Regions from separate parts of the Homo sapiens genome. Here all the other regions are linked to region 2. Evidence: fine-mapped expression QTL. A gene starts in region 2. Each other region holds a variant in brackets. All regions are shown on one strand. Distances are between the middles of the regions. Region 1 holds the start of LOC124901013 (a long non-coding RNA gene). Region 2 holds the start of HOMER1 (homer scaffold protein 1). Region 3 overlaps LOC124901013 (a long non-coding RNA gene).

The links. PIP is the estimated chance that this variant, and not a neighbour inherited with it, causes the effect.
Region 1: its variant is the best candidate, but not a certain one, in a credible set for the expression of HOMER1 in liver (GTEx, PIP 0.75).
Region 3: its variant is the best candidate, but not a certain one, in a credible set for the expression of HOMER1 in thyroid (GTEx, PIP 0.76).

What each region holds. Positions count from the first base shown.
Region 1 is chr5:79,545,877-79,555,589 of GRCh38, reverse strand. It overlaps LOC124901013 (a long non-coding RNA gene), which reads left to right and starts at 7,955. Exons shown (of 2, transcript XR_007058839.1): 1 at 7,955-8,136. It overlaps LOC105379047 (a long non-coding RNA gene), which reads right to left and starts at 8,017. Exons shown (of 3, transcript XR_948497.3): 1 at 7,946-8,017. The variant C/T (reference allele first, on the strand shown) is at 6,335.
Region 2 is chr5:79,508,016-79,519,087 of GRCh38, reverse strand. It overlaps HOMER1 (homer scaffold protein 1), which reads left to right and starts at 4,954. Exons shown (of 9, transcript NM_004272.5): 1 at 4,954-6,318. The coding sequence starts at 6,314. It also overlaps the pseudogene RPL29P15. RefSeq lists enhancers at 4,232-4,421, 4,130-4,677 and a silencer at 4,672-5,381.
Region 3 is chr5:79,536,002-79,544,724 of GRCh38, reverse strand. LOC124901013 (a long non-coding RNA gene) reads left to right here. Exons shown (of 2, transcript XR_007058839.1): 2 at 313-939. Among named protein-coding and RNA genes, the nearest start is that of HOMER1, 26 kb to the right of the region's middle. The variant T/C (reference allele first, on the strand shown) is at 3,964.

The sequences.
Region 1 (9,713 bases), 37 kb before region 2:
GCTACAAGGGCACTATGAAATGTACTCTATGCCATTTTTAAAATAGAGTATAAAATCATATCAAGACAAATAGCCCTGCTCACAAAATTATAAAGTGTCATTTTTCTTCAAAGAGATGAAAATAAGAAAAATGAAGACTCCTATCACTGAACTTCAACACAAAATTAATATACAAAAGAATCAAGTTCTGAGTCCTGAATGTTTTAGTTCCTTCAGCGTTTTAGTGAATAAATATAAAATAAGTTTAATTACATAAAAATACTTTGACAGACGTTTTCACCTTTTTATTTTCTTTTTTATGGTTGTTGTTTCCTTTTTTTTTTTTTTTGAGATGGAGTTTCATTTTCATTCTTGTTGCCCAGGCTGGAGTGCAATGGTGCGAGCTTGGCTCACTGCAACCTCCGCCTCCCGGGTTCAAGCGATTCTCCTTCTCAGCCTCCCGAGTAGCTGGGATTGCAGGCATGCGCCACCATGCCCGGCTAATTTTTGTATTTTTAGTAGAGACGGGGTTTCTCCACGTTGGTCAGGCTGGTCTCAAACTCCCGACCTCAGGTGATCCACCTGCCTCAGCCTCCCAAGGTGCTGGGATTACAGGAGTGAGCCACCATGCCGGGCCTTTTGTTTCCTTTTCAATAGTAGAGCTACCCTAAGAAATCTTTTTCTGTGGTCTCTTGTCTGTTCATCTGATTTTCCTAGAGACAGCCCAAATGAGTGAAAAACAATGGGCTTCAGCCAGGAATGGTGGCGCTCGCCTGTAATCCCAGCAGTTTGGGAGGCCAAGCCAGGAGATTTGCTTGGGCCCAGGAGTTCAAGACCAGCCTGGGCAACAGAATGAGACCCTGTCTCAACAGCAACAACAAAATTAGCTGAATGTGGTGGCATGTACCTGTAGTCCCAGCTACCTGGGAGGCTGAGGTGGGAGGATCACTGGAGCCCAGGAGATCCAGGCTGCAGTGATCCATGATCATACCACTGCACACTCCAGCCTGGTAAAAAGAGCAAGACTCTGTCTCAAAAAAAAAAAAAAAAAAGAAAGAAACAAAAGAAAAAGAAAGAGTGGGCTTCAAGTTAGAGAAACTAAACTTTAACTCTGGCTCTGCCTCTTAAGTAGGAGTGAGCTTGGGCAAGCCAATTCAGCTCTCTAAGACACGTTCTTTTCTATAAAATGGGAGCTTTTGATAATAGCAGCAGCTCTTCCTCTCCCACAGTGATGATTAAGTGAAAGTGTGTAACTTTTCTTTAGGAACAGTAATTTCCAAATGTTAATGACGGTTTTTCATATCTTTGTTCCTTTTTGTCTATACAAACCTATCAATCTTGACTTTATCAATTATTAAGTCTCGATGATTTTACTCCAAAACTCTCATATCCAGCTCTTCTCTGTAACCCACCTCTGCTGCCGTAGATTCTATAGGAACCATTGTCATTCACCACCACATCACCCCCTCACTCCCTTCCCCCAGCTATTGCTAGGCTCGAATCAAACTACCCTCACATCAGGGTGAAATTTCTCATGGGCAAATGTAACCATGCCTCCCCAGTGCTTGGTATTCATTATGGCTCCCAGTCACCTACAGAATAAAATCTCAAATTTTTCACCATTTGGCCCTGCCTACCTGTTCAGCAAGCTTCATTTTCTGCGGGCTCTTTTTTGCCCTTCACAGACTCATAATTCCAAGATTGTTTTTTTCCTGCCTTTCTGCATTTGCACACTTACTCCTCCCGCCTAGACTGTCCTCCTCCCACTCAGCATCTCTAGTACAATTTTTCTGCAGAATCTTTTCATTCATTGCTAGCAAAATCCTACTTACTCCTCACATCTCAGTTCAAAATGTCCCCTTTTCACATGCTCCTTTCCCACTCTGTTTGCATCTTCTCTATGGTTCTTCATTGTACTTGCTGTGTCCCTGTTAGACCTTTGATACCTAAAGAGGGTTGATCATGTCTTTTTATGTTGCCATCTCCAGCTCCAGCACAATGCCCGCACCTAGTAAACACTTAACAAACACTTAACAATATCTCTTTGTTGCATGAGTAAATATTTTTTAGTATTCTTAACCCCTGGGCTGGTTTCATTTTATCTATCTTATTTTTCTATTTTCACAGGATTTAATCATTTATGTATACCAGTTTAGCATCTTTCTTTTGATATTCGTATAAGTAGTTATAATAACCTTATCTTGGGGCATCATTACTGTATCAAATACATTATTGCTGAAGTCAGGACTTTTGTAATTAAAAGGAACAGATAATCACTTAAGCTAACTCAAGGGAAGGAAGGGCTGCGGCTGTGGGTATTTTTAAGACACTGCAGTGATCCTGTGGTGATCCAAGCACAGGAAGCCTCATGGGAAATGGGGCTGGTACAGAGCAGCTTTTTCATCTCTTGTCATGTTGTGGCATCTTTCTATGCACGTGCTCTAGTGTTTTTCGCTGAGCTCCATCTGTTTTCAATTTCCTGGTAACTTGCCTGTGAATTTTGGCTATCATTCAAGTCCCTGACGTCCTTTCACTCTGCCTCACTATGTCCTCCCTTTTTCTCAAATTTCAGATCCATAAGGGAGAACTCTAATTGACCCAGTTCATCTATTTGGGCCAAGCCACAGTCATTCATTCATTTATCAAATATTTACGGAACACCTAATATGTGCCAAGGACTCATCTCGATGCTGGGGTAAAGACAGTGAAAAAGACAGATAAACATGTCTGCCCTCATGGAGTTTACATTCTATCCACCACAATCAAGTCACTGAACTGGCAGTACGTAGGCCAGACGCTATCTTTTGACATCATCACCCAGGGTGGAAGTGGAGAGGCAGGGTCATGTGGCATAAAACATGGCCACTTGGTCAGCAAAGGTGGGCAGGGCAGATTCCACAAAAGGAGGTGTGGGCAGGCATGGAGGGACTTTGGCACAATTTTAGTTTGAATTTTCTCTATATTATTCAGAATTCCCTTAATTTATTCTCCTTGCTTCCTATATGTCTCATATATGGCTTTAAAAACATTATTTAAATCATACCTTCCTTGATTCATGCAAGGACGTCATGATATCCGAACACATTGTTACATCTTCTAAGTAGGTGTAATCTTGAAAAGTAATTTGAAAGACTTTGCCTTAAGAAAAATCTAAAATTTGAAATGTTTTTCAATGCCTAAAGAGCACATTCCAAGGCAGGATGGTTAACCTTCTACTTTTAATTTAATTGTCTTGGCTCACTTTGCAAGTACCAGATGTTGTTATTCCCATTTATATCTTGTAGTTAGGGAGAAAAAGAAATGACTTTAGAAGCCTTTAATAACAAACCCTAAACTCCATTAAAGTCTATCTTTCTGTGTGAATCTGCGTTTCTAGGATCACTGTGTGCACAGGTGCAGGTCTATATGTCTGTGCACAAGTCAACGTGGCATAGTATTTTCACTGTCTCTTGATATGTCTGTCTTTATTCCTTTGTTCATCTTTTTCTCCTCTACCTCTCCATTTTTTCTCCCTTCTCTTCCCTCAGCCCCCAAGTCTGTTTGTCTCCCTCAACTAACTATGATATAGAATTGAAATCAATGTTTCAGTACTGGTGCCACCACTTCACTGGTTTGCAATGATAGATAAGTACCCCAAGACTAAATTACCATTTGGTAGTATGCCCAAAATTCAGTTAGCTGCCAACAGGTGAGAAGTAATGACTCAGCCATAGGCCCAAATGGCAAGGCTTCTTACGGGACTAGCTCCCACCAAAAATATACCCTTTCACTTACAACTCCATAAGTTACTGAAATGCATAAATGCATTATGTGAAATTCATAATGATGGTGCTCACGTATTTTTTATTAGAAAATGGTCACAATGTATGACAGTATCAAGAAAATCTAACACCCTTCTACAGTCAAGAACTTTTCTCATTAGACTTAACTATAATCAAATACTCTCCTCAATAATCCTCTATTTCAACTAGCCCAGGGTTACTCAGGCCTACACAGATTAAATTTGCCATAAATCTCTTCAAATCAAAAGTCTACAAGGGTCCTGGCTCCAGGACTATGGGACTTTGGACCAATTTATCATAAATAAACTCTTGTTGGTAGTTTTCACTCTGCTTTTATTTTTATTTTAATTTTATGTAAGTATTCATTTATTTATTTGAGATGAAGTCTTGCTCTTTCACCCAGGCTGGAGTACAGTGGTGCGATCTCGGCTCACTGCAACGTCCGCCTCCCGGGTTCAAGCGATTCTCCTCCCTCAGCCTCCCGAATAGCTGGGAGTACAGGTGCCTGCCACCATGCCTGGCTAATTTTTGTATTTTTAGTAGAGATGGCGTTTCACCATATTGGCGAGGCTGGTCTCGAACTCCTGACCTTGTTTGCTGCCGGCCTCAGCCTCCCAAAGTGCTGGGATTACAGGCGTGAGCCACCCCGCCCGGCCTCGTTATTTATTTTTTATTTTATTTATTTATTTATTTATTTTGAGATGGAGTTTCACTCTTGTTGCCCAGGATGGAGTGCAATGGCCCAATTTCGGCTCACGGCAACCTCCACCTCCCGGGTTCAAGCAATTCTCCTGTCTCAGCCTCCTGAGTAACTGGGATTACAGGCATGTGCCACCATGCCCGGCTAAGTTTTATATTTTCAGTAGAGACGGGGTTTCTCCATGTTGGTCAAGCTCGTCCCCAGCTCCTGACCTCAGGTGATCCACCCACCTCGGCCTCCCAAAGTGCTGGGATTACAGGTGTGAGCTACCCTGCCCGGCCTATTTATTTATTTTTAAAGATAGAGTCTCATTCTGTTGCCCAAGCTAGAGTGCAGTGGCGAGATCTTGGCTCACTGCTTCCACCTCCAGAGTTCAAGCTATTCTCCTGCCTCAGCCTCCCAAGTAGCTAAGACTACAGGCGCCTACCACCACGCCTGGCTAATTTTTGTAATTTTAGTAAAGACATGGTTTCACCATGTTGCCCAAGCTGGTCTCAAACTCCTGACCTCAGGTCTCCTGACCTCCTGCCTCGGTCTCCCAAAGTGCTGGGATTACAGGCATGAGCCACTGCACCCGGCCTAATTTTTTTAATCTTTGAGACATGGTCTTGCTTTGTCGCCCAGGCTGGGGTGTGTTGGAACAATCGCAGCTCACTATAGCCTCGATCTTCTGGGCTCAAGCAATACTCCTGCCTCAGCCTCCCAAGTAGCTGGGACCACAAGTGTGTCCCACCATACCTGGTAAATTTTTCTTTTTCTGTAGAAATGGGGTTTCACCATGTTGCCAAGGCTGATCTCAAACTCCTGGCCTCCAGTGATCCACCCACCTCGGCCTCCCCAAGTGCAGGAGGATACAGGCATAAGCCACTGCACCTGACCACTCTGCCTTTTTAAATTTTTATTTATTTTTTTTTTGAGACAGTCTCTCTCTGTTGCTCAGGCTGGAGTGCAGTGGTGCAATCTCAGCTCACTGTAACCTCTGCCTCCCAGGTTCAAATGATTCTCGTGCCTCAGCCTCCCGAGTAGCTGGGATTACAGGCGTGAACTACCATGCCTGGATAATTTTTGTATTTTCAGTAGAGACAGGGTTTTGCCATGTTGGTCAGGCTGGTTTTGAACTCCTGGCCTTAAGCAATCCACCCGCCTCAGCTTCCCAAAGTGCTGGGATTATGGGTGTGAGCCACAGCACTCGGCCTACTCTGCTTTTAAACTCCAAGTGGATCTATAACGGTTTGCTTACAAATTGTAGAAAGCCAGCATTCATTACGTTCTCTAACTCTCCCTGTTCCTTCTGACCTCATCTCTTTGATCTTATAGCAAAAGTGTATGGCAGCAAGAACAGGGACAGAGGAGACAATGTTTTAGCATGATCTAGACTTGAATAAAAATCCTAGGATGATCCTTTTTCAGTCAAAAGGCAATTCTACAACTGTTGACTAACTTCATCTGATTCCTTCCACACTAGTAATTGAATGTATACCTACACTTGCTGTGTATATATTATTGACTCATTTCAAACAACTTTAATAACATTATAACACCTTTTAAAAAAACTTGCTTCTTAGTGTGACACAATCTTGAAGTGATATTAGACATTACCCTCTTGTTCTAAAATATTTCTGTAACACGTTAAACTAACAAGAGTTTTTTTTTTTTTTTTTTTGAGACGGAGTTTTGCTCTCGTTGCCCAGGCTGCAGTGCAATGGCACGATCTTGGCTCACCGCAACCTCTGCCTCCTCGGTTCAAGCGATTCTCCTGCCTCAGCCTCCCTAGTAGCTGGGATTACAGGCATGTGCCACCACGCCCGGCTAATTTTGTATTTTTAGTAGAGACGGGGGTTTCTCCATGTTGGTCAGACTGGTCTCGAACTCC[C/T]GACCTCAGGTGAACCACCCACCTCGGCCTCCCAAAGTGCTGGGATTACAGGCATGAGCCACCATGCCCGGCCAACTAATGACAGTTTTAAAACAATTTGTTCAATTTTTCAACAAACATTTATTGAGTCCCCACTTGTGATAGGCACTAAGCGTATACCTGAGTACAACAGATAAGAATCTTGATCTCATGGAGCTTACATTCTAGTGAAGATGGAGAAGACATAACAAAATAACTAACAAGTATGCAGTATGCAAAAAGATGAAGTGCTATAGAGAAAAAAAATGAGAAAAGGCAGATAGGAAGTTGGAATTGCAGTACAAAATAAGATGATCAGATAGGCTGAGTCTTTTGAGATAGTTGTGTATTTTCTATTCTTGATTTCAAAAGCAGAGAAATGTCCATTTATAATCCTCCTAGTATAAAAAGGTAACTTACTATTTTTAATTGCTCTTGAACTTAAATGCTCTTATTAAGTATCTTTGTGTTGGATCTTCTGCCAGAAAATAAATAAATAAATAATACATAAATAAATAAACTAAACCAGAGCTTAGGTTTTGCTGGTTGTCTGCAGCTGCTTCAATTTATCAACTTAGCAACATTCTACTTTCTGAATTGACTGGCAATTTTGGGCATCAGAAGACATGTACCTAAGAGTTGATAATTCCAGAGAAAGAGAGTACTCTAGATTGTCTGAGACCAAAAAACTCTGGTGAAGCTGTCTGATTTTAGTCATGTCAAGTTAATGCAGAAAATTCTTGTATTTCATGTTGTCCATTTCACATACAACAGATAACAACACTAACCTACTATAACTGTAGTTTAAATTGCTTTCAAGCATATGAGAATGGGTTTAGGTTCTCTATTTCTGTTGCTTTCCTGCCTTTTTTTGTGTACCTTCCTTTTTTTTTTTCCTCTCACCTTGAAAAAACCTCTACTGAGTACCTACTTACCAGCCAAGTAGATATGGGACATCACTTCAGCTTCTATTAAACCAAATCAGTGGTGCTTAACCCTGGCTGTGCACTGGAATCATCTTTTAAAATTACTCATGTCTGGGCCCTGATTCCAGTTAAACCAGAATTTCCAGGGGTGGGACCCAGGCATGAGTACTTATTCATTTATTTACTTATTTTGCAATCAATCATGTTTTCATTTTCTTCTTTCTTTTTCCCTTCCTGTACACCTTCTTTCTCTCTTTTGTCTTTCATTCGTTCACATATGCCTCATATATATTTATAATTTTAAAGATATGCCATTATACTCCACATTATGATTTTTTAAAAATTCCAATTACATAAAAGATTCCAATGCACAGTTTAGGCCAACAATCCCCGAACTTAGCCTACAGGCCCTCAGCAGCCTCCCACCCAGCACCACTGAGGGTGTCCTCAGGAAATCAATCAGTACTTTGTTACCTCTGTGGGGACTTCAGCTTTCACCTCATTCTCTTATTCTTTCAACTCCTTTCCTCCCTCTCCTTTACTTCTTACCCTTCTTGTCTGCTTCTGCCTGAGGCCTGCTGACAGTACCTGCTAACACTGTTTAGCCCTATTGGTGGCCAGCATTAGGTTAGGTTTTCAGCCCCTGTTGCAAAACAGATCTAGTTACCTGGAGATTGCTCACTCATCACTTCTGCGGCTGCTTCTGTGGTTCTCTGGGGCCTCTCCACACCTGCCAGGCTGGCTGCTCTTCATGGCTGGTGCTGCCATGGGCCAACCCCAGGATGGCATGCTTTGACCCTCAGAATTCCCGTCTAAGAAGTGCTATCAGAGCATGTGTGTATGCTCTCACTGCGGCAGGTAAGGCATTTAATCATCATCTGGCCCTTTTCCTCTTTGCCATCTCACTTCCCACTATCACCACCACAGTACTCCCCGGCTGCCATAAACACACGTCACCTTATGTGTGCTATTATGTTTCCCTAGATAAAACCTTTCCTGAATCTGGAAAACTGCATATTCATTCTGCAGAATCCTAACTCAGCTGTTACTCCCCTAAGAAGCCTTCTCCAATCTCCTTGATCACAGTGTTGTTCACATTGTATCCTGCTGGCTTGTGTGTTTATGTTCCTGGCTCCTCCCTAGGCTCAAGGCAGAGGCTGGCTCTTTATTCTAAATGTCTTTAAATAGATAACAGCTTTTCAGTAAACGTTGAATGGAGGAAAATGTGAATAGACCCAAGGAACGTACATGGCAAACTACAGTTAGCTTGTAGACCACATCTGGCCCATCGCTTGTTTTGGTATCTAGAGTTTTATTGAAATACAGCTACACACATTTGTTTATGTATTCTGTGGTTGCTTTAGTGCTACAAGGCCAGAGACGAACAGTTGCAACAGAGACCGTGTGGCCCACAAAAGGCAAAAATATTTACTCTCCAGCCCTTTCCTGAAAAAGTTTGCTGACCTCTGATCTAAAAGAAACCTGAGAAGTCTCCTACAGTAACATATCCAGTAGAAAGATAATACAAGCCATCCAGTTAATTTTAAATTTGCTTGTAGCCACATTAAAAAAGAAAAAAAACTGGTAAAAATTATTTTAGTAATATGTTTTATTTAATCCAAAATATCCAAACATTATCATTTCAACATGCAATTAATATAAAAATTGTTTTGTAGTGAGATATTTTACATTCTTGGTGTGGTACTAAGTCTTTGAAATCCAGTGGGTATTTTACACTTACAGAACATGTTAATTTTGACTAGTTTCACTGTAAGTGCTCCATAGTTACATGTGTGGCTAGTGACTATCTTACTGGGCACTTCTAGATCAAATCCATCAGGTTATAGTTGAAGAAATTGGTCCAGAGAGAGTAAAAGTTTAATCTAATGTCACATTTAGTAGCAAAATTGGGCATTAAACCTGGCTGTCTTCATTCCTAGCAAAGTGCTCCACTGTCACATCATACTAACTTTGGCCTTATTGTTTGTTCACTAGAAGAGATATGATAAGAAGATCTAGTTCCTAATTCCGTACAAGCATTAATAAGTTGTGTGATTTTAGGATATTTCTTAGCTTCTCAGGATTTTCATTTCCTCATCTGTAAAATAAGAGCACTCAACTCACTAAAACTTAAAGGTTTTAAAATTTGAATGGTATATGACAAATCAAACATGTTTGGTTTACAAACCAGAACACACTGCAGTTATTTTGCCTGAGAATTCTTTTCCTAAGAAGCTGTGTGCAAATATGAATTCATGGCTATGTTGACTGTCAGCATAACTTGAGGAATGCTCTCAGAGGCCAGATTTCTGATGGACAATCCATTCACATCGACATTTTAGTAATAAGGACCAAGAGATTTGGAAATGATCCAAGAAGGTCTTCACTGAGGAGTGAAAGAGCAAAGAAGGGACTGGTGTTAGGGCCCATATGGG
Region 2 (11,072 bases):
CAGCCTTGTCTCTCTGAAAAGAAGGCCATTTCCTTCCATAAGAATGATTGTCCTAAATACCTTGTGGGTTGTTTTTGTTTTAGTTGGCACCATAACAGTCACAAAATAAGGTAGTTCATTTAAAACATTTTCCTCATGGTTGTTCTGTTCCCCCATTCAGGAAAAAGACTATTGGTTACCATGGCAATCAGCTTCCACAGCATTCCATTCTAAGTAACTGCACAGGTACAGCACAACCTTTACTCCACATTCTTTACTGTAGTTCTCTGCAGATCTGCGTATTTTTCTAGCCTGTTTTCTCTAACTCCTGCTTAAAACAATCAACCAACCAACCCAGGTTAAGCCAGACAATTTTTTCAAAGGTACCTTATCCCCATCTTTTCTGAATATTTTAAAAATGTTATATAGACAGTTGTACTACCATTTCCTCTAATTTTGTTCTATGTGGGCCCTCAACAGCAGCTAACTGAAAACTTTCTAGTACCCTCTTTCACTATCTAGGATTACATTTGTATCCCTCTGACCATATTTGGAAAATGAATTTACAGTAAAAATCAGAGCAGGAGGTAGTTCTGAGATCATTTCCCATGGCTATCTACCATAGTTTTCCTAAGGCTAATTCTTTAGCTTCCTTTCCTCTACCACTTTCAAACCTCTGTAATAAATTGTCCTCAAGCCTTGCCTTGAAGATGCCAAACACTTGTGTTCCCACCCTTCAGACTGTTTAACTACTTTGCTTCTGTTCAGAACATTACTGACAATAAAAGATGGTCTTATTACAGGCCATACACAACTCAATGGTACCCGGTATCTGCTATATAATGGAGGAAGTGGGATGATTTTGGAGAGTCACTGGATAAATTCTGTTTCCCTGCAACTCTTTCATTCTTATTACGTTTACTCTTTGCTGGTTAGTTTCTTCATGACTATGTATTATAAACTAGGAATTATGATATTTATTTTATATAGAGAGATATCTTTTAACTTATTTTTCAATCTGACTTTATTTGAATTGATAGTGGTATTTTGGTAATTAAAAGCAAGTTGTTATTATCTAATGTAAGGCAATTAAAAATAAAATCTGGCTTTTACTCTCTTTCCTGCAAAGGTTTTCTATCTCTTAGATGTCTTTTCATTGAAAAAGACATATCTCATGACCAGTGTATGAACACCCCATTGAAGATTGCCATCTCCTATTAAGGGCATGGAAATAAACTCTGTAACTAAAACAGATGCCTTCGCCCACAGATTCTAAAATCAGAGGGTATTCATAAACCGCCCTACAAATTTTCAGAGCACAGTGGGAAACAGGAACTGTTAAAATCTGAAACTCTACTAAAGTACTTTCTTCCTCTTCCGGTAAAAGAAAATATATTACTTTCTAGGAAGTTTACTATTTTAAAAAACATACAAAAAAATCAGGGTTGGGAATTCACAACTAAAATTTGGGTTACATCAGCTCATCTTAGGAGAAAAGATATTTATTTACTTACAGATGGAAAGCCATGGAATGCCTCTCTGACTCCTCTTAAAACTGTATTGGAATTGTTTCAAGCAGGGAGAAAAGGCTATTTTTTTCTGAGAAGACATGCCATATTACATAAAATGTTTCAAAGTTTTACATATTCTTTTGACTACATGGACACATGTACTTACTGATCCTGATCCCATATAAGCTGGCAAGAAATTCATACCTATAAGTAATAAATTATAGGTAGAATTTTCTAGATTGAGGCTGAAGTTAAATAATTGCATAAACTTTGAGTAATTATATCACAGTGCACCATTCAATTTATGTAGAAAAAAAGCTGCTCTCAATTTTCAGTTGATAAAAGAGCAGCTGAGAAGAGACGATGTGGTTGTGAAAAGTAGAAACTAACAAAGGGTCAGCACTCTAAAGGCAGGAAAGCAGCTGAAAAGCTGTTTTGACAGTTGGGTAAAGATGAGGGGAAAAAAGACTGTAAATGAGAGGAAGTTGTGATGAAAGGGTAGAATAAAGTGTTTGAAAATGGTAAAGTGAGAGCTTTAATTAACATGGAGAGAAAGAGCAGGAAAGAGAGAAGTTATTTAGTTAGGTAGGAAATTGTTTGTAGAGAAATTTTAGTAGTGTAATAACATAATTTGTATTTTAATTTGCCAAGGGATGACATTATTGGAAGAATGATAGTTTTATTGTTTTAACATTTTAGATATAAGAAGCTCCATTTGTCTGAAATACAAATTGGTACAAGTTTCGATTAATATGATAATAATATACATTAGACAAATTGGCAAGCAGGGATTTGCCTTTCATTAACCTTTTGTTATAACCTTAAAACAAACAAACAAAAAGCAAAACAAAAAAAAACGACGCGGTCGGGCGCAGTGTCTCAAGTCTGTAATTCCAACACTTTGGGAGGCCGAGGTGGGCGGATCACTTGAGGTCAGGAGTTTGAGACCAGCCTGGCCAACATGGTGAAACTCCGTCTCTATTAAAAATACAAAAATTAGCCGGGCGTGGTGGCAAGTGCCTGTAGTCCCAGCTACTCAGGAGACTGAAACAGGAGAATCACTTGAACCTGGGAGGTGGAGGGTGCAGTGAGCCAATATCGTGCCACTGCACTCCAGCCTAGACAGCAGAGCGAGACTCCGCCTCAAAAAACAAAACAAAACAAAACAACGTAAAAAACTAGGGTGAGCGCTGTGGGTAATGCCTGTAATCCCAGCACACTGGGAGGCCGAGGCGGGTGGATCACCTGAGGCCAGGAGTTCGAGACCAGCCTGGCCAACACGGCGAAAACCCATCTCTATTAAAAATACAAACATTAGCCAGGCGTGGCGGCGCGCGCCTACAATCCCAACTACTTAGGAGGCCGAGGCACGTGAATTGCTTGAACCTGGGAGGCAGAGGTTGCAGTGAGCCGAGATCGCGCCACTGCACTCCAGCCTGGGCAACAGAGCGAGACTCAGTCTCAAAAAAAAGACTTAATATTTCAAACTTCAAGCAAGATCATAATTTTATAATGTGAAGATGACCAGAGTGTTTGAATCAGTTACAAATGGGTCTTTTTTGTTGTTGGTGGTGTTCTTTAATCTTGGACTCCTAACTTGAGCAAGAAAATGTAAATACAGAAAGCTGCAAAACCAATGTTCCTTAATTAGGAACCATGTGAGTAGTTTAACATTACAAACAGTTTCTAAAAGTCACACGTGGTATACATTCTAACGAGTTTTAGCTTCTTTTATTTAAACTGCGTTGATATTGATCTATAACTTTCCTAATAATCACTTCATAGGTTGGTAATCCTATGTTTTGGATTTTCCAGGTCACTTCAGATTCAAATATTTTTTCCTAACGTCAAATGGTGTGTCTAGATTTTGGTCTGGAAAACAGGGTCACTAAATTTGTAGACTAACTTGAAACAGTATTGGCCTTTGGCAATACGCAGCAATTCTATTTCTTGGCCATGCTTATCAAGTTAAGTAAAATAAAATCAAAGTTCACTATATGATTTACCTAATTAAAAAATTGTTTTAACCTAATTACTTTAAAATAATTTAAAAACTCTGTAGTAATTTACAATGTAAAAAGCACTCATAATATGGTGTTTATAGACACACATAGCTAGTAAACCTATAGACAGCTACTCACCCTTGCCATACAGAAAATGCAAAACACACTTAAGAGATATTGTAATTACATATTATGTGGTCAAAACTAAAGAAGACGAAAATATGCTTGTGTTAATGAAAAAGGATTTGGTGCTCTTTCTTATTTTTAATTTTTAAATTTTAATTTAAATTCCACAGACTGAAACCCATATACTTTTTCTCTTTCTTGTTTTACTGGCTGGAGCCAAGTGTCATGGAACTCATATTCTTGATGAAGAGAAACTGAGAGGACACACTGGCATTTGCTATACGTGAACTAAGATTGACTCATTTTCCTATGTCAAAACTGCTATTTTGCAAATAAAATTACTATCCTTTATAACATTATTTCGTTTGCTTATTGCTCTGCTCTTTATTCTTTCGTGTTTCAGGTAACCACTAACAAAAAGTTTAAAAGTCGACTATGTCCAGAATGGCACTCTATAATTGAAAATTTAGGTGATTTTTCCGAAGTCCTGTTGGAAGCACATCTACCAGCAGTGTGATCAGGCTCTCCCTCCCACATTTCCCTGCTAGTCAGGACAAGAGAAGCCCGGGGGTGCTGCTGCAATAGCGGTGGGAGTGGGAGATAGGCTATTACCCGCTTGACACTGCACTTTTGCTACGAATGATTCACTCAGGTTTGGCACATTTGTTGCAAGGAAATCTCCTCCTCCCGCCGCTTCCTTGTTCGAGCTCCTCTCGGGCTGTCTCCTGTGCTTTGGCCTTTAAGGAGAAGTGAGAGCAGGTGGGCACACAGGAGCTCGCCGAGTCCTCCTCCCCCTGCTCCTTCCCTAATTTAGCAGTACTTCCGGCCGCGTGACATCATCCCCCGCACCTCGGTGACGTGAGCTGCGGGTGACGTGTGTGCGGAGAGAAGCGCGCTGACGTTGCTATTTAAAGGTCCTCCTGCGGGGAGGATGGAGACACAGCGCGAGCACCTGGTGTGGGGCGCGGAGGAGGCTGTGGCGGTCGGGAGCGGGGCCAAGAGCCAGAGGAGGAGCAGAGCGCACGGCCAGCCAGCCGCCAGCCTCTAGGGGAGGGGGGAAAAGAAGGACGAACGGACTGAGGGCCTGCCGCCGGCCCAGCTCCCCACGAGGGCCGCTCGGCCCCCCACCATCAGCCTCTCCGCCGCCTTGCGGCTGCTGCTTTCTCCCGCGGCCCGCTGCTCGCAAGGCCCGTCGGGCTCCCGGGACCAGTCCGCGCCCCAGCCCCCGGCCGCGGCTCCGCGGCGGCCACCGCCTCCCGTCCCTTCCCGCGAGCAGAGGGAGGGACCGCCCTCGCTCCCCGTTCTCTCCGCCCCCTTCCCGCCCCCCGCAGCCCACTCTGCCGCCGCGCTAGCTTCACGCCGGCGGCGCTGACCGGGAAAGCAGCACCCTCTTCTCTGCCAGCCGGCCGGCCGGCGGAGGCGGAGGCAGCGGCAGGCTTCAGGCCGCCGGGGCTGGCGCTGCTCTGCCCGGCGGTAGCCGGAGGCGGGCGCTGATGGAAGTGTGAAGAGGCGGCGGCGGGGCCCGGGGAATGTGAGGCGGCGCGTGGCGGCGGCGCGGAGCGTGAGAGACGAGGAGTAGGGGTGGGGGCGCTGGAGCGGCGGCTGCGCTTCGGCTTCGAGCCCAGCTCTCCTGGCCCCAACGCGGGCTTAGCCTCCCGCCTTGGCTCGGGCAGGCGCCCGTCGACCCTTCGGCCCCTTTCGCCCGCCCTGGAGCTGGGGGCAGGGTGCCAGTGGAAGCGTGGGGCTTGGCTCTGTGATTCATTCATTCTCCGCCGACGGGAGCCTCAGACCCGCTGTGCTCTGAAGAGAGGAGGGAAGAGGGGGCAGCCGCGAATGAAGGGCCGGGCACCAGCCGGGCTCCATTGTGCTCGGCGGCGGGGGGCGGGAAGGGGCTGAGGGAGGTGGGATCGGGTCCCCTCCTCCAGCTCTCCGGCGTGCGCTGCGCCCCCAGCCTGCTGCCAGCCTGGAAATGGCTCCGTTTATTCTCTTCGGGAGAATGAATCGATCCTGCCTAGCCTTCTCTTCGTCCTCCCCACCTCTTCTCTGCTCCGAGTCTTAGGAGGAGAAACATTTAAAAAGACAGATTCCAATGTGGAGTGCCGTGCAGGTTGCGAGCTGCCGGGTTTGCACTTCGAGGAGATTTTCCTGTGTAGTTTTTTTCCTAATGTGAGCGCAGGGAAGCCGTGGCATTACTGCTTTTGGGATTTTTATTCACGTGCACGTCGCGTTTGGTTGCTCGCTCCACCCCCGGAGACCTGGTGTGGTGGAGAAATTTGAACCCGCAGCCTTAGCTCCGAAAAGGCCGAGTTACCTGGCTCTCCCTGAGTGTCGAGGAGGACATGAGTGAAATGACCAGCGAACTCATTTTTTATAGGACTCGGTGAAGCCGGATTCTGCATTTCCCTACTTGTAGACTCATTTTGTGGAATAGAGTTGATCGCTGTCTCCTCCGCAAAGCATTTTAACTCGAATAAGCAAATGCCGCCTCTGTTTGAACGTTTTGGTATTTACAAGAGAGAAATCATTTTACCTAAGAGAACTAATTGAATTGGCAGCATCCTTGAAATACCTCCGGACAAGGATCTGGGGGTGGGGGTGGAAAAGCAACTGCGAAATAGCAGACGGAGAAATTCCTTTGGAAGTTATTCCGTAGCATAAGAGCTGAAACTTCAGAGCAAGTTTTCATTGGGCAAAATGGGGTAAGGATTTTTGTGCTTAACACAGCTTCGAATCTGTTTATGTATGTGTATTATTGAGCGGTGGTGGTGATTGTGTTTTGTGTTTTCAAACAAACTTGCCACCTTGCTAAGCTGGTCATACTTTAAAGAAATAGGCATGCTAACCTTTTAGGTTATTTTTGCATTTTTGTAGAGCGGTACCAGAGGTCATAATTTAAAAACACATATATCGTTTGTAACTTGAATATGGATTTGTGAGTAATGTTTACAAAGACAACGCATTCTACACTTTACTGGTCAGACTGCTGCATCAGTTTGTAATCAAAATCACATTATTTTAGCTTTTGCTGACGGTTATCTTTCAAAGAGAAGTACTGCATTCTCTCAGTACTTTTAGATAATCAGTTGCACAAAGGAACGATTTTAATGAGTGGTTAGACAACAGTCCTTGAAAGTGATCCAGAGTAAATTGTTGCCCTCACCGTGCCCTCTGTCTTGTCCTTGAATATTCAAAGCTAAAATGTATAGAATTGATTTACTGGGGCGTTAAAACGAAAATCTGAAATTCAGTCTTACTGATGCGGTCACCACGGTACGGGTGCATTTCGTAGGAAAAAGCTTTTTGTTTAAGGAACTTGTTCACTCCTTTTGTTTTTCGCTTTTAAGCTCAGCCCTTCAGTTTGAGTTAACAGTATCAGATCTACACCTTCCTTCGGACCCAGAGCCAACTGAGAGTGCATTTTCCAGTCTTTTATTAACTCTTCACACTGTGGGTTGATGAAATGCTAGTGACACTTCCTAATTTAAGCTGGAAACCCATAATATATTAATGGAGCAATCTGATTTCATTGACAGGTTGTCACTGCTTTTTGGCAGAAGAACTTCCAGAATTTTCTCTTTTTGTGTGTGTGTGGTTGAACAAACACATCTGAAGTGTAGTTGAGGGGCATGTTTTAAAGAATGGACTCTGCAATTCATCGTGATGGTTTAGGTGTGTACACACGCTTGAAACTTTCTGAGGAAAGTTCTTGAATAGTACCTTCCTTTTGGAGTTAGAATTTGAAGTTTAACATGCATAACTTTGAAAATTTAGAGCATGTTGTAGGAGACGTTCCTCAGAAATTAATGACAAAGTTATAATGGTTTTAAAAACTTGAATGACAAGTGATGAGAATATATATAACTTGCATGATTTGGGGGTACCGCTAAGAGTAATTAAAATACCTCATTCTATTTCTAGCGCTGCTATTAGTAGCTTAGTGATCTGAGGCAAATTACTTGACCTCTGTGGACTCTATTTCTTACCTGTAAAATGAACGATTTAGAGATGACTTAAAGATTTCTCCAAACTGTAAAAAACGAATTGCTTTCTTTTTATTCTCCTCCTCATTTTAATGATCACTAGTTGGTTTCTGCAAGTCGATCTTTCTGATGGAGACCTTTTTCACTCTAAGCAGTTTAAGCGCTTAACGCTGAAAAATAATGGCATTTGAAAAATGTTTTGGATGAATTGCACCAATTTTAAATGAGAAAAATACTGAAAAATACTACTGTTCAAAACCTTAGAAATATGGCTTCCCTTGAGCATCTGCAGCTCTGTTTAAAACATGTTGGAGGAAAAAAAATCAAGCAGCAGTTTTTCATGTTGATGGCTGCATTTTGTCTAGACTGTGGAGTAGTAGCATCATGGAAGAAAATCAGTTTTCCAGAACCTTTAAGCTGCATGAATGCCTGTCATTTTACCAAGGGAAGCTTAGGATGAATTTTTTTTTCCCTGCCTGAGGTTTCTTTGTACAAATAGCACAGGAGGACCCCAGCCCCACAGCCCCATGCAGATGGCAGCCTGGCGGGGGGTCGCACCAGTCCTGTCCTCACGTTGGCAGATAGAGATATCTACTCTGAAGCCTCTGTAGGGGCCTGGGCACCTTTGGGAGCCTGAGCTGGAACTGAAGCTGGAGCTGCAGCCTGGGCCTTGGTTTGATCCTTGTCCTTGGCCTTTGGCCAGCACACCCTGAGCCCCTTGGCAATGCGGGCACGAGCATGCTTCCCAAGCTTGGGGTGGACAGTGTAGGCAAGTTGAGCTTGCGGCTGACACCCTTTGGGATCTTGGGCTTAACCTCCTTGGGCTTTAGGAGGGCCTTGATAGCCTTGGCATGTGCACTCATGGCCTTGGCACTGTTAGCCTGCATCTTCTTTAGGCCCTTCTTGTTGTGTTTCTTGGCAAACTGCATGTTCCTCAGGAACTTGGGGTCCACCCCCTTAAGAGATTCGTATCTTTGTGCTTCGGGTTTCTTGATACCATTTCTGTGCCATTTTTGGGACTGGTTGTGTGTGGTGTGGTTCTTGGACTTGGCCATGTCTGCACCTTAAGGCGCGGCTCCTGAAGCGCCTAGAATCTGAAGAGACAGGATGAATTTAATACTAAGGGGGCTGTTGTTTAAAGTGGGAAAGTTAGCACCACACATAACATGCATTTAGACACTTAGCATAATTAATTTGTTTATAAATGAATGTATCTGCCCTTTAGTTAATAAAGTTCTATATATGGACTGAGGAGAAAAAGGAGCGAGCATTTTGTGGTGCTATTTTTTTTTTTTTGGAAAGCCTGTATTTGGGGCTATGACCCTTTCTCATTGATAGTGACTTGAGTAGAGAGAGGAAGGGTAGATGGAAGTAGAAGAGCATACAGCAAAGGCATTTGCTGACGTTTCCACACTTTATGCGTATTTATGCCTAATAAATGTTTGTGGAATTAGCATAGCTGCCTGGACCTATTTCAAGCAAAAGGAAACAGGGCTTTAAATGGCTTTTAAAGCTTTACCTTGGCAATCCATAATTACCTTACTGTAATAGATATCTAAAATTTAATACTGTGGGTAAAGTGTTTCACATATTACAACCTTCTTTTTTTAAACTAATGTTAGGTTATAATAAGGATTTATCTTCGTCTTAATTGTAGATAATTATTGCAAGTCTAGGGGCAGTCTAAGCAAAGGAATTATTTTTAATAAAATCAGTGATTGGGCAGAAAAAAATTATGGCTCCCCTAATAGTAGTTTATGAACTTTTTGGAAATGGAGAAGAACAGCTGAAACTTGACAGTTGGCAAAGTCTGTCAAAGTATCTTGGATGTTGCATGAACTGTTAATTGCAGTGAAGGCAACTAAAGTATGGGTTTGTAAAATAGGTGTATCAGATCCCCTAAAAATTAAGGCATTCATGTATGTAAAATGAAGTCTCTGAAAAGTTTTGAAGCCTCAGTGAGGAGCCCCTGTTAGGTATGACCCCCACCCCCACCTCCAAATAGTATCTCATAATGACAGCAGTGAGTCAGTAGCTATTTCAGAACTATCACAGTAGGCAACAGAAATCAAGTAACTTCAACCACTTATTTCATGAAACCCTTTGTTTTTACTTAGCTCATTTTGGCAACCTAGTGCCATCAGCAATGGTAAAGAATTCTTTCCCTCCCTTCCCTTATTAAGAGCTACTTATACATAAAATGGGGCTCTCCCTGCTAATGGAATCTGTTAATGCTGTTTCTGATTTATCTCACCTGCCTATGGGAACTTCTGGAGTCCTTCCTTCCCCTCTTTCCCCAAATAACTTCCAGAAGCATGGAAATGAGTGCTGCTACATTGCAGCCCAAACTGAGTCTCTTTGCTGAAAGATGGGAAGCTGACACCTCCTTCTGCCTCAAACTGCAGGGTTCTGCTCTCTAGGGGTTGTAGCAAAAATGTGAAAATCTTGATCCAGCACTATAAATGGGTTTTATTGCAAAGATAACCACCCTATCATATCTGACAATAGACAACTTAGATGCAAGTCCTTAATTCGTCATTTGTTCATTTTACCAACTTTGAACCTTTGTTATAGTGCGTGTACTTACCTCAGTGCTGCTGATAGGAAGGCCAATACAATGTGCTCCTTCCCTTAGTGAGTTTATACTTTGGAAGTTGGGCAGACAGTCAAGCCTAAAATTAAAATGTGCAATGAAATTTTGTAGGAGCTATAATGTAGGGCATTATGGAGACACAAAGTGTGTGTTGGGGGGGCATTAGCTGCTGAGGGAAGGATAAAAAGGCTTTGTAGAGGAGGTGATAGTTGTTAAATACTGAAAGATGAGTACAAGTGAGCCTCTTAGACAAATAAGAGGGCATTCAAGGCAGAGAGAACAGTGATTGACACCACTAAAACGAGGAACTGCAAAGGAGTTTGGCATGACAAGCTTGTTTGCTTGAGCTAGCTCCCTTTGGTGTAGCAAGAGATAGGTCTAGAGCCTTATTATGCAGGGACTGGGTTGGAGAACCATGTAGATCAAATGAAAGATTGGATTATCCTGTAGTTTAGTGTGTTTAGAGGTTTTTTTGGCTATGACCCGTTGGAAAGATAAGCATCTTTACATTGCAACCCAATATGCTTGTATATAAATGATAAAATGTCACTACATAATACCCTTGCTTTGTATGGTACACTCTGGTAGTTTCTATTCTGTTCCGTTCTATTTTATTTTTAAGATAGACTGATGATGGTGACCCACTCAATTTATTTAATGACGCTGTGTTAGCAACTGGTAATTTGAAAAGCACTTCTCTTCTGTGTGAAGATTACTAAAGGGTTTTAAGCAGAGTAAGAACATGATCAGGGAAGTAGAATAAGAAAGCAATTTTAAAAATCATTTACAATTTGGTTTTGTGTCTTGTATCCTGTGGAAACACCAAGCCAGAACAATGAACTCTGGCTGGGTAGAGGAAGTGGACAGTTGGGCAGGCCCT
Region 3 (8,723 bases), 27 kb before region 2:
CCAGATAGTGACTGGGCAGCTGGACATGAAGGTAAGGAGTCTCCCAGGGAATTCTGCCAGACATCTTGCTTTTGTTACCTGATAGGTACGTTCTTCAGAATTCTAAAACGGAATTTTGTTTCTTTATGGCAGTATTTCATGTCTATAAGCGTGTGCATTGCTAACTGACTTCAGAATGGTTTTGTTACCTTTCATCTTTCTGGAAAAAAATGACACAACAGTTTAAGTGACTTCAAGTTTACATCTTGTGTAGGAGAATTTGCCTTCCAGTACCGAATGACTTTATAAAACAAAACTTGTGCATTTGTGCAGCCAGCAGAGGTGGGTTCCGTCCCAGCCGACTCATCTACCACGCTTCCTGCAAGATGGATTCAACTCAGCATATTTGCAATCACTGGCCAAAGACCAAGGAGACAGCCCTGGGGATTTCTTCCTGGGACACTTCTCAAGGAAAACTCAGTTCCTTAGATAGAACAGCAGATTTATTTTGAACCAACTGTCAGCTATAATTGAACTAGGAGACTACCCTTTTTCCTGTAATTTAGAGTATTTAAAAGAAATACACAATAATAACTACATCCAACACTTACGTAGCACTTACTGGCCACCACTATTCTGACTATTTTACTTTTATTAACTCATTTAATCTTAACAACCCTATGAAGCCCATACTGCTATTATCGTCATTCTCATTTAACAGATAAGGAAACTGAAGGACAATGATGTTAAATAACTTGTCCAAGACTACACAGCAAGTAAGAAGCAGAGCCTGAGATCGAGCCTAGGCAGTCTGGCTCCAGTTTGTGCCTTTATTTCCCTGTGCCACCATCTACAAGTTAAGAAGTGCCTTTTTAATTTTTGGCCAATGTTTTTGATGGGACTGCAAGTATGTAGAATTTAATGACTATTTTATTTAATAAAATTATGTATAATACTTGACTTTGATACTAAGTCAATTTGTACTTTTTCAGGACTTCTAAGTTGTTAGTTCTTTGATAAAATGATTATAGGATTACAATACATTTTATTTTGTGAATAAAGAATGAGAAACAGGCTGGGCACAGTAACTCATGTGTATAATCCTAGCACTTTGGGAGGCCAAGACTAATGGATTGCTTTGAGCTCAAGAGTTTGAGACCAGCCTGGGCAACGTGGCAAAACTTCATCTCTACAGAAAATACAAAATTAGCCGGGTGTGGTGGCACGTGGCTGTGGTCCCAGCTACTTGGTAGGCTGAGGCTGGAGAATTGCTTGAACCCAGGAGGTGGAGGTTGCGTTGAACCGAGATCACGCCACTGCGCTCCAGCCTGGGTGACAGACCAAAACCCTGTCTCAAAAAAAAAAAAAAAAAAAGAATGAGAAAGATGAGAAGGTGCACTCCTGCTTCCTCTCATCTTCATGTGAAATTCACAGTCATCCCTCAAAACCAGTGTATACACATCACCTCTCATGTGAGGCCTTCAGTTGTAGAGTTAATTACTTCTGCTACTGTTACAGCTTATATACATATCTATAATTATACTAATCACACTGCATTGTAATTATTTGTGTATCTCATTTATGACCTATGCTTGACAGGAAAGCCTGAAGATAGGATCTATGTTTTATTCATGTGTGCATTTGTGTAATAAAGTCAACAAATTTTAATTGAACTGTATTTGAGGAAAAATCCTTATATTTAAATGGATTTCTTTTTTTTTTTCTTTTTTTTTTTTTTGAGATGGCATCTCACTCTGTTGCCCAGGCTGGAGTGTCAGTGGCGTGATCTCGGCTCATTGCAACCTCCACCTCCCGGGTTCAAGCAATTCTCCTGCCTCAGCCTCCAGAGTAGCTGAGATTACAGGTGCCCACCACCATGCCCGGCTAATTTTGTATATTTGGTAGAGACGGGGTTTCACCATGTTGGCCAGGCTGGTCTCAAACTCCTGACCGCAGGTGATCTGACTGCCTCAGCCTCCCAAAGTGATGGGGTTACTAAATGGATTTCTTTTATTTGAAGTGTTTTTATTCAGCTGATCATGCAGATTTAACATGAGAGAAATTTCTGGAAGTATATGATCACTGATGGCTACTCATAAAATTTTTCTTATTTGAAATACTGTGCGTGCAAAACTATGGAATAACTTAGCTGTATTCATACTAAAGAACTGTAGCCTTTACAACATGAAATATTTACAATCCATTCTTCTAACATTAATAACTCTACCATTTAGCTGGGCGCAGTGGCTCACGCCTGTAATCCCAGCACTTTGGGCGGCTGAGGCGGGCAGATCACGAGGTCAGGAGTTGGAGACCAGCCTGACCAACATCGTGAAACCCCGTCTCTACTAAAATACAAAAATTACCCAGGCGTAGTGGTGCGCGCCTGTAATCCCAGCTACTCAAGAGGCTGAGGCACGAGAATCACTTGAACCTGGGAGGCGGAGGTTGCAGTGAGCCAAGATTGCGCCACTGCGCTCCAGCCTGGGTGACGGAGCGAGACTGTGTCTCAAAAAACAAAACAAACAAAAAAATTCTACCATTTATTCTAAAATTACATTTATTTACCATTTATTCTTAAATCTTATTGAGTCTAAGTTTTAAAGAGTTATGTGGAGCAGACGCAGTGGCTCATGCCTACAACCCAGCACTTTGGGAGGCTGATACAGGCATATCTCTTGAGCCCAGAAACTCGAGACCAGCCTGGGCAACATAGCGAAACCCCTTCTCTACAAAAAACACAAAAAGTAGCCAGGTATGGTGGCATGCACCTGTAGTCCCAGCTACTCAGGAGGCTGAGGCAGGAGGATTCCTTGAGCCCAGAAAGAGGAGGTTGTATTGAGCCATGATCTCACCACTGCATTCCAGCCCGGGCAACAGAGGAATACTCCATCTCAAAAAATAAAAATAAAAATTAATGAGCAAATACACATCAGATTTTAGTGGAACAAGCAGCACAGCGCTGCAGCTCAATTATACACATAGAAACAAATACATTTATGTAACAGCTTATATTTCACCACTTAAGCACTGCTTTTTATAAGAATGAAAGTAAAGTAATACATTGCATAATCTTTGATTAAAATTAGTTGAAAACCAATATGGTTCTAACATGCTGTAATTCACCTAGCAGCTGATATTAACAATGAATTTTTTTAAATCCCAAATTTATGTAATTTCTGCTACTAAGCATATTTACATGGCCTGAATTAAAACAGAACTTAAGCTTATGCTACTTCTAACTGGCTTCCTGAGTTTAATATAAGAGCTCTTTTCAATTAAAAATTTTTTGGATCAAGATTTATAATTTATTTTGCCATTCTAAGATAATACAGTTTCATACATTTAAATTATAAACATGTTGGTGTTCACAATGTTTTTAATATAAGCATTATGAATCTTGGAACTCAGATTCCCTAGGGGGCTTTTAGGAACTTGTAGTAAATATTTAATAGAGGATATGAGCTTTCTTTTTTATTTTAATCTTTATTTTTCCAGAAGGGGATATTATTTAATCTATCCATATTTACTCTATATTCCTGTAAGATAACGCCACTAGGGATGTAGTGGACTTATGGAATCTAACGTCCGAATTCTCAAAGGCTCGTTATATTTTGAATGTTTGCCTTAAATGGGATATTGCAGAGTCTGTTGAACAAACAGAAGCAATTAGTCAAAGGATGTCGAAAGAACAATGTTTTTTTCCTTTTCTTTATTTCTTTCTTTCTTTTTTTTTTTTTTTATTTTTTTGAAACAGGGTCTTGCTCTATCACCCAGCCTGGAGTACAGTGGCACAATCTCGGCTTACTACAACGTCTACCACCCGGTTTCAAGTAATTCTCCAGCCTCAGCCTATCAAGTACCTGGGGCTACATGCATGTGCCACCACACCTGGCTAATTTTTTGTATATTTAGTAGAGACAGGGTTTCACCATGTTGCCCAGGCTGGTCTCGAACTTCTGAGCTCAAGTGATCCACTAGCCT[T/C]GGCCTCCCAAAGTGCTAGGATTACAGGTGTGAGCTACCACACCTAGCCTACAATTTTTTTTCTTATGCTACGTTTACAACTAATTGTAAAGATTTCTAAGAATTAATCTAGAAGCAAACTGGTTTTGCAAATTAAGTATTGGAGAATTTTTTTCTTCATGTACAATCTTTGAGATGTAAAAAGAAGCTATTATTTTCATGGAGTCATCTTGTCTAAAAAAAGTTTGTGTTGTTTTTAAATGTGTGGTTTGCTCTATTTTAAAACAATAATAATGGGAAATTTTATTTTATTTATTTTTATTTTTATTTTTTATTATTTATTTTGAGACCAAGTTTCACGCTTGTTGTCCAAGCTGGAGTGCAATGGTGTGATCTTGGCTCACCGCAACCTCCACCTCCCGGGTTCAAGCGATTCTCCTGCCTCAGCCTCTCAAGTAGCTGGGATTACAGGCATGTGCCACCACACCTGGCTAATTTTGTATTTTTAGTAGAGATGGGCTTTCTCCATTTTGGTCAGGCTGGTCTTGAACTCCCAATCTCAGGTGATCCACCTGCCACAGCCTCCCAAAGTGCTGGGATAATAGGCATGAGCCACTGCGCCCGGTCTTGTTTTATTTTTTGAGATGGTCTTATTTTATTTTTTGAGATGGAGTCTCACTCTGTCGCCCAGGCTGGAGTGCAGTGGTACTATATCGGCTCACTGCAGCCTCCGCCTCCCAGGTTCAAGCAATTCTCCTGCCTCAGCCTCCCGAGTAGCTGGGATTACAGGCGCACATCACCATGCCTGGCTAAATTTTGTATTTTTTGTTTTTTTGAGATGGAGTCTCATTCTGTAGCCCAGGCTGGAGTGCAGTGGCGCAAACTCGGCTCACTGCAAGCTCTGCCTCCCGGGTTCACACCATTCTCCTGCCTCAGCCTTCCAAATAGCTGGGATTATAGGCGCCCGCCACCATGCCCAGCTAATTTTTTTTTTTTTTTTTTTTTTTTTTTTTTTTTTGTATTTTTAGTGGAGACGGAGTTTCACCATGTTAGCCAGGATGGTCTCGATCTCCTGACCTGTGATCCACCCGCCTCGGCCTCCCAAAGTGCTGGGATTACAGGCGTGATAAATTTTGTATTTTTAGTAGAGACGGGGTTTCACCATGTTGGCCAGGCTGTTCTCAAACTCCTGAACTCAAGTGATCCACCTGCCTTGGCCTCCCAAAGTGCTGGGATTTCAGGCTTGAGCCACTGCACCCAGCCAATAATAGGGAATTTTTAAAGTCACCCGTAATCTCACCATCCTAACAAAATAAAATTTCATTATTTTATGTTTCTGCATCAGATTCGTTTTGCATGTTGCTAGACAGTCTATAGCATTACAATTTTAATAAACTCATAGTTCCTCTCTCTTTCTCCCTCTCTCTCTCTCTCTCTCTATATATATATATATATATATATTCAGTCATCAATCAGGCATTTTTATCAAGTATGTAAATGGACGAACACAGGAAAACAAGGGAAGGCAATCATTTGTCTTTGAAATGGCTGAATCTTTTAATATCTCCCTTTGCAGACAATCCACACTCTTCATGCTTTGCTTCTGACAGGAAATAACAAAGCTAGCCTTGGTCATTACCAGTACTACCTTTCGTGCAAGTCCAAGTTGACCTTGTTCAACCTACATTCTAGCCATTTTAGTTGATTTCTCTCTGGGGCTTAGAGTACATCAACAAACATGTGGACCTTTGACTTGTTGGTCATGAACGAAAGCTAAACATCTTACAAAGGTATAAAACTCATCTTTGTTTCAGCTTATGTTAGCAGGAAGAGTTGTTTCAGCCCCATGGAGACTCTGAACAGTATTTTGAACTTATTGCCTGGTGCTTCAGAGCAATGGGATCAATATTTGGAGGCATTTTTTCAAATCTTACAATTCCACATCAACCTCAGCAAGTCGAACTAAACTTTATTTGGCCTTAACAATTCAAATCTTCAATATTTCTTTCCAGAGTTTTGCAAGTCAATCATATTTGCTCTTCAATGTGTTTAGGTTTTGTTTGAAGCATGGGTCTTTCATCGTTTGTAATCTTGACTTTTTATGCTCATGAAAGTAACGTAAGCTCATTATAAAAAGTTAAAACATTACAGAAATATTGTAGAAAGTTAAACTTTTGTGATGTGGCGAGCCGTTGTTAATAGAGAAATAGCAGATATTCGTCAATAATGTTTTCCTTATTATTAGCACATATTCCTAAATAGACTTTTTAAATTTCTTGACCATTATATAGCTCTTAGAAACATACTCATCATACATTAAATATTGTTTTGCACATCGTGTTTATCATCTTGTATCTCTTGGCTCTCTTTCCATGTAAGTACTTATAAATTCTACTTCACTCTTTTCATTAGTCACATAGTATTCATGTATATATATACATACATATATATATATATACACACATACATATATATATATATATATACACATACATATATATATATATATATATATAATAAATCCATAATGATGGACATTTGAGTTGTTTCCAGATTGGTTTTATTTGTTTCTTTGTGTTGTTTTGTCATACCAATGCTGCCGTGAATATCCTTTTAAATATACCTGTATATATGTGGAACACAGTATTTTAAAGCTTTAAAAAGGAAAGTAATGAACTCATACTGTTTAATGTATTTAATTCTTGTTAGCAGTTCATCTTACCAGCCTACCAAACGTGTAATAAATATTCCAAAAATTTTGTTCAATATCTTTAGTTCTCGAAGATAACTGCAGTTTTCTAGAATTTAAGAATATTGTCCTACAAATGACCTTCCAACATGTTCTTTTATGACTCACTGAATGATAGGAATAATGATTCCTTGACCATTATATAGCTCTTCAGTTTACAAAGCACCTTCAGATAATTATCTCATCTGACTCTCACATCAATGTGATGTATGCAGGACAGGTTTATAGGAAAAAAATGGTGCTGAGTTGGAAATTTTTACTGCCTAAAATAGTTACATAAAGTCCTTTGTTCTGCTAACTCAAAGGGTCAAGTCCACTGTCATGATGGGATTGTGGTATCATATTGGTACCTTAATGTGAAAAAAACACTTCTACATCACTTCAATAACTGATGTTGCTAAATTACTATTCAGTTTTCAAGCATTTTATTTAATTCTCTGATATCTAGAGATTAGGCTCAGCAGGCATTTTTCAGATAAGTGCTCCAGTAATTGCTACTCCAAAACCAAGTATTTAAAAGACATTTATGCAGTAGTTGTTAAAGGTTGGTGAGTTTCAGTATCACTTTTTCTTGTTTAGAATTGGAAGAACAGAGGGTAAAGGTTGAGGGGGGGAAAAGTCCACAGAAATGTAGCACCAACAGGACAGTTCCTGCTAAGACCTTGGAAATTCCTATCCTCACCCATTATTATTTCTGTATCCCTATGATCCTTCCTTTAAACAGTGCCTATAATGATTGGGCACATAATAAATGGTGATGCTTCTCTCATTTCCCACACTCCTGGTAGGAAGCAGCTCCTATACAGGAAGAGAAAATCATTGTCCTGTTGCCTCCCACTTTGAGAAAGGAAGCAATCTTGAATGACACTATTGTTTCCATAGCTACAAATTTACTTTGTCTCATTAGTAAATCTATCTATACCCTCAGTTTAGCTGAGAATGCACTTCTGAATTTCCTCTCTTCCTCCATCTACTGTAACATGTACAGGAACTCAAAATCAGTTCCCAGATCTGAAATCTTAGGAGACTGTATAAGTCCATTTTCTGTTGTTTACAAGAGAATATCTGAAACTGAGTAATTTATAAAGAAAAAGAATTTGTTTCTTACAGTTACGGAAGCTAAGCAGTCCAAAGTTGAGGGGCCACATCTGGTGAGAGCCTTCTTATTGGTAGGGACTCTCTGCAGAGTCCCAAGGAGGCACAGAGCATCGCATGGTGAGGAGTTTGAGTGTGCTAACTCAGGTCTCTTTTCCTCTTCTTATAAAGCCACCTGTCCCACACCCTGGATAACCCATTAATCCATTCATGAGAGCAGAGCCCTCAGGACACAATCACCTCTTAAAGGCCTCTCAACACTGCCACACTGGGGATTAAGTTTCAACATGAGTTTTGGAGACGACACATTTTAAAACCATAGCAGAGATCCAGTCCTCTTCAAGCTCTGCTTGAATATGATAGCAATTTCTAACTAACCATCATCCTACAGAGTGGCTACATTAATATTTTAAAATGAGTTATATTACTTACAGAGAAATCACATTGCTAGTACTTTGAAATTCTGATGCTCTGTTTTTTTCCATCAGTAGAATTATGGGAAGTTGATCTGCCCTTATCCCATCTGTCCAACATTACTTTGTATTGCTCAAGTTGTTCTTGCCTGTCAAGTCTTCACTGTATGGTCTCTTGACTGTCCTGTGTGTAATACCTAGCTCATTCTCACCTCTCTGCCTTTCCTTATATTGTTGCTGTCCTTCAAATCCTTCTGTCTGACCTACCTGAATTCTAATCAAGTTTTGAGAGCAAACCCCCGAGTCACACCACATAAAGCCTTCCTTCCTATGACAGAGAGCCCCACTGTTGTCGGTACACAGGCAGAGATAACTCAACACCTTTCTGCACATTCTGATGTCTTTCCATTCCCAACTTATATCAAATTTGTACTCTTGAAACCAAGCTTTTAAAACAGTAACATGTTTATTGGGTTGCAATAATCATATTAGACACCAGAGTGTAGCATATGCCTTGCCCATTC